Regions from separate parts of the Homo sapiens genome. Here region 1 is linked to region 2. The links come from fine-mapping of genetic effects on gene expression. A gene starts in region 2. The other region holds a variant in brackets. All regions are shown on one strand. Distances are between the middles of the regions. Region 1 overlaps DUSP19 (dual specificity phosphatase 19). Region 2 holds the start of NUP35 (nucleoporin 35).

Region 1 (4,279 bases), 37 kb before region 2:
AGTCAAGGCTGATGTCTAGCTTTCTTTGGTAACTAAGTAAAGTTATCGTTCCATGAGATTGAAAGCAACGTAGAAGGAACAGGCTTTGAAGGAGAAACAGTGTGCTCAGTTCTGAACATGTTAGGTTTTGGGTGATGTGGATCATCTAGGTGGGTGGATATGTAGGGTCTGAAGTTCAGAATAGAGGTGAATATATAGATTTAGGAATCTTCAGCTTTTAAGTAGTTACTGAAACCATTAGAATAGATGAAGCTGCCTGGGGAAAAGTGTAAAGTAAGAGAGAAGAGGGCCTATGACAGAATCTTATCACAGAACTGATAAATTGAGGAATATCACCCTATATGGAATGATCAAACAAAGAAGAGTCCGCAGTGGGAAAGGAGGATCTAAAAGAGGCCCAAAGAAGGTAAAACAAAAAGATGGTGTCATGGAAACTAAAGAGAATAGTGTTTTAAGGAGGAGAGAGTCAGCAATGTCAGATGCTGTAAAAGTTTAAGTACGATTAGGACTAAATTATATCCATGGGACTTGGTGACAGAGAGGTTGTTAGTGCGTTTGGTGGAAACAGTTTCATTTGAATTGGAGGCCAAAGCCATATTGCAAAAGATTGAGAAGTGAGGAAGTGATGGCAAAGGGAAAAAAAAAAAGAGAGAGAGGAGCCATAGGTGAGGAGGGGGAGGGGAGAGCTTTGAGCATGTTTTAAGGCTGATGGTAGAAGAAGGAATTGAAGATACAGAAAAGCAAGAATTATGACTATAGGGAGATGCCAAGAAAGTAGGAAGCACTGTGACTCCAAGCACAGGTTCTGGAATGAGCCTTATCGAAGATGCACGAGCACATCCTTCATTGTAATCAGAAGGCAGAGGGGAAGTACAGATGTGGACAAGGTTGTTAGGTTTTTTTTTTTTTTTTTTTTTTTTTTTTTTTTTTTTGAGGCAGAGTCTCGCTCATTTGCTCAGGCTGGAGTGCAGTGGCATGATCGTGGCTCACTGCAACCTTTACCTCCTGGGTTCAAGTGATTCTCAGCCTTTGGATTATCTTAATGGACTGTCTGCCTGGCTTTCTTCCACATGGTTGGTGGACTCTAGGAAAAGGGGCTCAAATACATAGATGCAAGAGGAGGAGGTTGCTCAAGTGTACCATCTGAAAGAAAATATTTTACAACCACACCTCCCCTTACTTTTCAGCCAGATTGGTTCATCAGAATCTCTGGGTATGAGACCCTGTGTTATTGATAGTTTTTAAGAGTTCATCAGGTGACTCTAATGTGCAGTCATCCTGGAGAACCATTTTATAAAGTAAAGAATATGAAGGAAAATAGGGAAATAATTCTTGAAAGGGAAGTTGTATACCACTGATACACTTCTCCTATTTAAGTTTTTATATGGATATTCACAGATTAATTCAACAAAGATTTTAAGCATTTTCTGCTAAACTCACTGCTCATTCGCTTATAACACTAAGTTAAACATGGTCCCTACCCTCATGGAGTTTCTAGTGCAGTGAAAGAGAAAAACAATCTCTAAATGGCATGAGCTATAATAGGGCAAGTCCAGGGCTATGAAAATATATAGGCCAGGTGTGGTGGCTTATACCTGTAATGCCAGCACTGTGGGAGGCGGAAGTGGGAGCATCACTTGAGGCCAGGAGTTCGAGACCAGCCTGGGCAAAAAAAGTGAGACCCGCCCCCCTCTTCTCT[G/GAA]AAAAAAAAAAAAAAAAAAAAAATTAGCTGGGTGTGGTGGTACACGCCTGTAGTCCCAGCTACTTGGGAGGCTGAGGCAGGAGGATCACCTGAGCCTAGGAGTTCAAGATTGCAGTGGCCTATGATTGCATCATTGCACTCCAGCCTGGGTGACAGAAAGAGACCCTGTCTCTGCATGATGATAATAATAAGTTAAAAGAGAGAGAGAGAGAGAGAAAACATATAGTAGAAGGAGCACTTCTGGTGTGGGATTGAAGCAGTATTATCATTCAAGTGAGTCGCATTTAAATTTTTTACCTTTCTTGTTATAGATATCAACACCCCAGTCTCTTTTTAGGTAACCTAATTCATGGGATTTAAAACAATCATCTTTTTTCTTTCTCTTTAAGGTGACTCATATTCTTAATGTTGCATATGGAGTTGAAAATGCTTTCCTCAGTGACTTTACATATAAGAGCATTTCTATATTGGATCTGCCTGAAACCAACATCCTGTCTTATTTTCCAGAATGTTTTGAATTTATTGAAGAAGCAAAAAGAAAAGTGAGTTTTGTTTTGATCCATAGTTCTGCAGAAGCAGAAATTTGAAAGTGTGGATCCATTACCCAATCTTTATTATTTTTATAATGAATCTCTAAAAAACAATTATGAAATTTCCCTTCTAACAATATTTCATTATTTCCTACAATTATTTGGTTAATTGCTCTTTTTTCAATGAGATGTTTAGTTTCAACATTAATTCAGACTATAAAACAGAGACTGCTCTAGACTTGTTAGTGTATTTATGATGATTAATATGCATTTGATTTTAATGAATGAGATAGTTATTGTGAAACTATGCATTTTTAGCAGTAAAATTTTAAGGCACTCTAAGGACTAAATGTGTATTGCTTTACTTAGATTGTATGAAAATGCTGATCAGAAACTGTCTGTTGGTTTTCTGAAGTTAGAAGACCAATAGCCAATGTCATATAGTACTTCAGGCTTGTTATTGAAGTCAACATTCTGACAGGCAAAGTTTCTAGGTTGGCTGTTATCAACAATTATTCCTTGAAATGTCATCATTTTTAGTCAGCAAATAATTCTTACAGACTTTATGTAAGATACGTAGATGGGAAAGTAGAAGCATTTACAGAGAGAAATAACTCTTCTGGAACACCTAACAATGACAGGATTACAATCAGGTTTAATTGAACTCTGGCCTACCTTCTCTCCCTTTATCTTTTCTCCTTCCCATTTTCTCTTCCTCTCTCCCTTCTTTCCTTTCATTTAGTAATATTTATTGAATGCCTTAGGTGCCCAGCACTGTTCTACGTGCCTTCCTACTAGACTACCCAGAAAATATAAAACTATTCAATTCTACTGTTCATCAACTTTACTTAATAGCAGATACAGTCATGCACTGCATAATGATGTTTGGACTGCATATATGATGGTGGTTCCATAAGATTATAATAATGTATTTTTACCATACCTTTTCTATGTTTATGTATGTTTAGATACACAAATACATACCATTGTGTTACTGTTGCCTACAAGTCAGTACAGTAACATCTGAACAGGTTTGTAGTCTTGGAGCAATAGGCCATACCATTCTAGGTTTGTGTGAGTGCACTCTGTGATGTTTACACCACGAAGAAACTGCCTAACAACACATTTCTCAGAATGCATCACCATTGTTAAATGATGCACGACTGTATTTGGATGGAAGCAAAGGAAGAGGTTTTTTTTGTTTTTTGTTTTTTGTGTTTTTTTTTTTTGTTTTTTTTTTTTTTGAGATGCAGTCTCACTCTGTCGCCAGGCTGGAGTGCAGTAGTGTGATCTCGGTGCACTGTAACCTCCGGCTCACTGCAACCTCCGCCTCTCGGGTTCAAGTGATTCTCCTGCCTCAGCCTCCCAGGTAGTTGGGACTATAGGAGCACACTGCCACACCCGGGTAATTTTTTGTATTTTAGTAGAGACAGGGTTTCACCGTGTTGCCCAGGCTGGTCTTGAACTCCTGAGCTCAGGCAGACCACCTGCCTCAGCCTCCCAAAGTGCTAGGATTACAGGCATGAGCCACTGCACCTGGCCAAGGGAGAGGTTTTTTAATTCAAAGCCTAATATTGGCCATTCTGTTTTCTTGTTAAAAAATTTACAGGCTCTGGATTGTAACATTCCAGTGTGTGAGTTAATAGTTTTAAAAATAAAAAGGATGTTTCTGTATTGGCTCCTTCTCTAAGGAGATGTAGAATATGCCAGAGATGGCAAAGTATAGATATCATCCATATTCATATTAACATTAGAAGAGATGTAAATGTTGCAAGTAAAAATTAGAGAGGTTAATCATATCTAGAAAGAAAAGCAAGAGATTGAATATTCTAATAAGCTTGGAATTTTAAATAAATTTAAAAAATAAAGTTTGCCTTAATTTGGGCCAGTAAATTAGAGTGGATTTTAGCTTGGGTTTCCTAAAAATAAAGCCTGAGATGAGGATTTAGAGCTTATGCTTAATTTGAGAGGTACAATCTCTAGGCAGTGAGAGTGGCAAGAAAGGAAAGTGATTCAAGGTGGGACGAGAAGCAATACAAAGTGATGCGTT
Region 2 (4,251 bases):
TAGAGATGGGGTTTCACCATGTTGGCCAGGCTGGTCTGGAACTCCTGACCTCGTGATCCGCCCGCCTTGGCCTCCCAAAGTGCTGGGATTACAGGCATGAGCCACCATGCCCGGCTGGTGCAAATCTTTTTCAACATCTTCTTTTATTTAAAGAAGTATCACTCTTTTCTCTTTCTCTGCATCTGTTCCTAAATAAACCCGTTATTAAATAAAAATGGTGCCGTATATGCATGCATGTTTTCAAATTACTTTTTTTCATTATATCTATCACAGAGGTCTTTCTAGGTTAATATTTACACTCATATCAAATCCATCTAATTCATTTTAGTTGTTGTATAGTGTTCTTTTGTTTGGCTAGATCATAATTTGTATAGAAATTTCTTTTTTATTTTGTAGAGAAGTGGGGTCTCACTATCTCAAACTCCTGGACTCAAGTGATCAACCCCTCAGCCTCCCAAGGTGCTGGGATTGCAGGTGTGAGCCACCACATCTAGCCTCAATGTGTGTAGAAATTTATACATTGATATACCTTTCTTGGTAGCTTAATTCTAAAAAGTGGATTGCCCTGTGTTGTGGGCTGACTACTCCCCAAAGATATCCATACACTAAGCTTTAGAATCTGTGAATGTTACCTTATATGGCAAAAGGTATTTTGAAGATGTGATTATTAACTTAATCACCTCTACTGAATATTGAAATAGTAAGATTATCCTGGATTACCTGGGTGGGTCCTAAATGTCATCACAAGGCTATGTGATGGCAGAAGCTGAACAAAGCAGTGTCAGACAGACCAAAGATGCTACATCGTTGGCTTTGAAAAAGCAGGAAGGTGGCACAAGCTAAGAAATATAAGTGGCTTCTAGAAGCTTGAAAAAGCAAGGTAATAGATTCTCCCCTGGAGCCTCCAGAAGAAAATAGTCCTTCTGGTACTTTGATTTTAGCCCTACAATACTCATTTTGGATTTTTGGCCTCCAGAACTGTAAGAGATACATTTGTGCTGGTTTAGTTAACCGAGCTTGTGGTACTCCAATGTGACTTTATCTGAACTTTATTACATCTGCAAAGACCCGATTTCCAAATAAGGTCATATTCATAAGTATGAGGGTTAGGACTTGAACATAAATTTTTGAGGGACACAATTCAATTCACACACCCATTTTCAAAAAGTCAATTCGATCTGTGAGTGGTTTTAAAATTTGATTTCTGTGAACCTACCATTTAATTCTGGAATTGTTACTGCCTCATTCCAAAGACAAAATTCTTCCTCCATTTGAGATTTTAGGAAGTCCTAGAAGAAATAGCTGAGCATGGGTGGATATTTTGGAAATAATCCTCATGGTATGGAGCAGAGAACGTCCCCAGTTATACATATGTAGCACATTATTTTATAAAGTTAGTATTTGAGCAAAACTAAACAATATATTTTTACACACACATATGCAGAATATGTGTATGTGATTTACGTATGACTATGCCCTAAAGAAAAGCAGCAAAGTGAGGGGACGTGGACGGCAGGGATGGCACATGCAGAAGCACGCAAGATTCCGCGGTGTGGAGGGTTCGTGGGTGCGTATAATTATCTTCCATTATTTACATGTGTACTTTATGCGTTCGTTAGCTATATTTTTGTATGTTTTAATATGCAACAAAACGGCGTATGAGTTACGCTTTAATGTAAAATTGTCTACATAACACAAAATTTAAAAGAAATGGCATACGGATAGTAGAAAACATGCTTTGAGGAAAAAGCGTCATGTACTAAGTCCAGAAATCGACATTGCAAAGAGGCACCAACTGTTTTCATCAAGCTGACTTTTCCAGGTGCTACTCAGAAAAGCTGACCGATGATAGAGCACTGGGTCAACTCACGCTAATTATGAAACCGTGAGTAAAATAATCTGTGCTTCTATGTAACTTAAGTACCCACAAATCAGGAAGCATTCCCGGATGAAAAGCATTCACAGAACCATACGCTGGTTCGCCACCTTCCCGGTGCAAAAACCCTTTCCTCGGAAATTCTCAGCGCAAAGACTTTGCCCTATTCCAAAATGGCTCCGGCGCCTACAACTTAAGCATAGCGCAGGTCCGGAAGTTACGCAACCCCATAAGGTAGCACGCCGTTACCCGTGGGGAGCGTTTCCGCCATTTTTGAAAATTAATTGGGAAGGTACTGGTTTTAAGTGTAGTTGCCGACGCAATGGCAGCCTTTGCAGTGGAACCTCAGGGGCCCGCGTTAGGTGAGTGAAATATTGCTTTTCCTTGCTGGCACTGCCATCCATGCTCTGGGCCTGGAGGCGGGCAAGACTGAAAGGCAGTCGTCAGGCTCTCGTCTGCTGGTTTCAGTCGCGGAGAGGGAATCCTTGGGTGCCCCCAAGTTCATAGTCGGTCCCCTACTCGACGCGTCGCCTCCATACTGCTACAAAGGTGGCGCCGGGAAGCTGAGGGCCCTGGGAGGGTGAAGAAAAGGCCGTCTGGCGGTGACTGAGCTGTGTTTGTGCCCCCACACGCCAGCCACGTTAGACTGGCCCATACCTTAACCTCCTTCTGATACCCGAGACGCGATGCTGGTTGCTGGATTCCCAGCTGGTTGCTGGTCCCCAGAAGCATCCCTGGGAGGAACTGACCGCGGTACACGTGGGTGGGCGGTGCCCTGAAGTGTGTGGGTGCAGTCCACTGCTTCTTGATCACCGGTGCTTCCAGTTCCTGTTTTGACTCCTCTCTCCCGGGCTTTGCCAAAGGAATCTTGTTATTAATGGAAGCTTGAATCGTGCAACATTTAATCAACCGTGTGGTTGGTAATCATTGAGATATTGACCTTAACAGCAAGCTAGGAGTTCGCACGATATTTCCCGCCTTTATTTGGGGAAAGTGACTCTTAAGTATTGTAGGAGGTATTTTTCTCTAGTAAGTCACGATCTGAATTTTTTTAAAGATTCATTCCCATTATTCATTGCGGAGCCTCGTTGAAATATGTCGTCTTTGAAAAAAATCTACCACTTTAACAGCACGCGGATTTCTTTTTTTCCTGCTGAGTTTTGCGACTTGTGAGAATCGTCGAAAATTTTAGAACGGAAAATAAACCGTCTTACTGTCATAGAGACTTACCTGAAAAGTTAGGTTATAACTTTCTGAGCTTGGAAAAGAGAGCAAATGTAATATATATGGTGTGGAAAGAGTCTTTAGATTTGAAGGGTATGTAATGCTTGCCATGTTTGGTGTAAAATAAGTTCTTTTTGAGAATAGAGTAACTTGAACTACTTTAGTCTGTCATAAAAAAACTAAATGCATAATGTCAATAATGCAGATACTCTGCATTAAAATTTATATATAGATGTCGTCTTGGTATTTATTTTTAATGTATTTTAGAGATCAAAAACTCTTCATTTCCAGTTCCAAATTTTTCTATTCAACAAAAACATTTTGGAGTGCATATTTATTGGGGTTACAAATGTGAGTAAACCAATCCCTGTATATTGCCTTGCCAGAAATCTGACATTAGCCAGTATTAATGTTTAAGTCCACATTTTGCAGATATTCCAGGTGCCCACTGGTGTAGTAAAACTAAGGGTTGACTTCAACAAACTGCTAGCTGAGTACGTATCTTTTGGGAGCACAGAATATGAAATGGAATTGAGGACATGCAGCATCTTTTCCTTAAGTTTGCTTTAAGTGAAATTTAGCCTGAGGGGTGGTTGGTGACAGTCCTGATTAAGAGCCCATTGTGCCCTCCTTCCTGTCTGGTGCTTTCTTTTTTCTTTTCCTTCCTTCTTCCCTCTCTCCCTCCCTCCCTTCCTCTTTTTTGACACAGCCGTGTCACCTGGGCTGGAGTGCAGTCGTGCAGTCTCAGCTCACTGCAACCTCCCCCTCCGGGCTCAAGCAATCCTCCCACCTCAGCCTCCCAGGGGCTGGGACCACAGTGTGCCGCCACTCCCAGCTACTTATTGTATTTTTGGTAGAGACAAGGTTTCGCCATTTTGTCCAGACTGGTCTCGAACTGAGCTCGAGCGATCCACCTGCCTCGGCCTCCCAAAATCCTGGGATTAGAGGCTTGCGCCTTCTACTGTGTCTGTATGTATCCAGATACATCAGAACTTTTCTTAAGCCAATTCTTACTTTATTTTGCTATAATTTTTTTTTCTTTTAGGGAGGGGGAGTGAATGTAGTGAATGTTACCAAAAACTTTGCGTTTAATATGGTATTCTGAATATCTGTTAAGAATATGCTTTTGTTTAGACTTTTGGTTTGATTTT

The links. PIP is the estimated chance that this variant, and not a neighbour inherited with it, causes the effect.
Region 1: its variant is the best candidate, but not a certain one, in a credible set for the expression of NUP35 in iPS cells (HipSci, PIP 0.55).

Annotation. Positions count from the first base shown.
Region 1 is chr2:183,084,952-183,089,230 of GRCh38, forward strand. DUSP19 (dual specificity phosphatase 19) reads left to right here. Exons shown (of 4, transcript NM_080876.4): 3 at 2,089-2,241. Among named protein-coding and RNA genes, the nearest start is that of DUSP19, 8.3 kb to the left of the region's middle. The variant G/GAA (reference allele first, on the strand shown) is at 1,700.
Region 2 is chr2:183,122,260-183,126,510 of GRCh38, forward strand. NUP35 (nucleoporin 35) reads left to right here and starts at 2,184. Exons shown (of 9, transcript NM_138285.5): 1 at 2,184-2,238. The coding sequence starts at 2,199. It overlaps LOC124907917 (a long non-coding RNA gene), which reads right to left and starts at 2,698. Exons shown (of 2, transcript XR_007087331.1): 1 at 2,534-2,698; 2 at 1,658-2,448. RefSeq lists an enhancer at 2,234-3,002.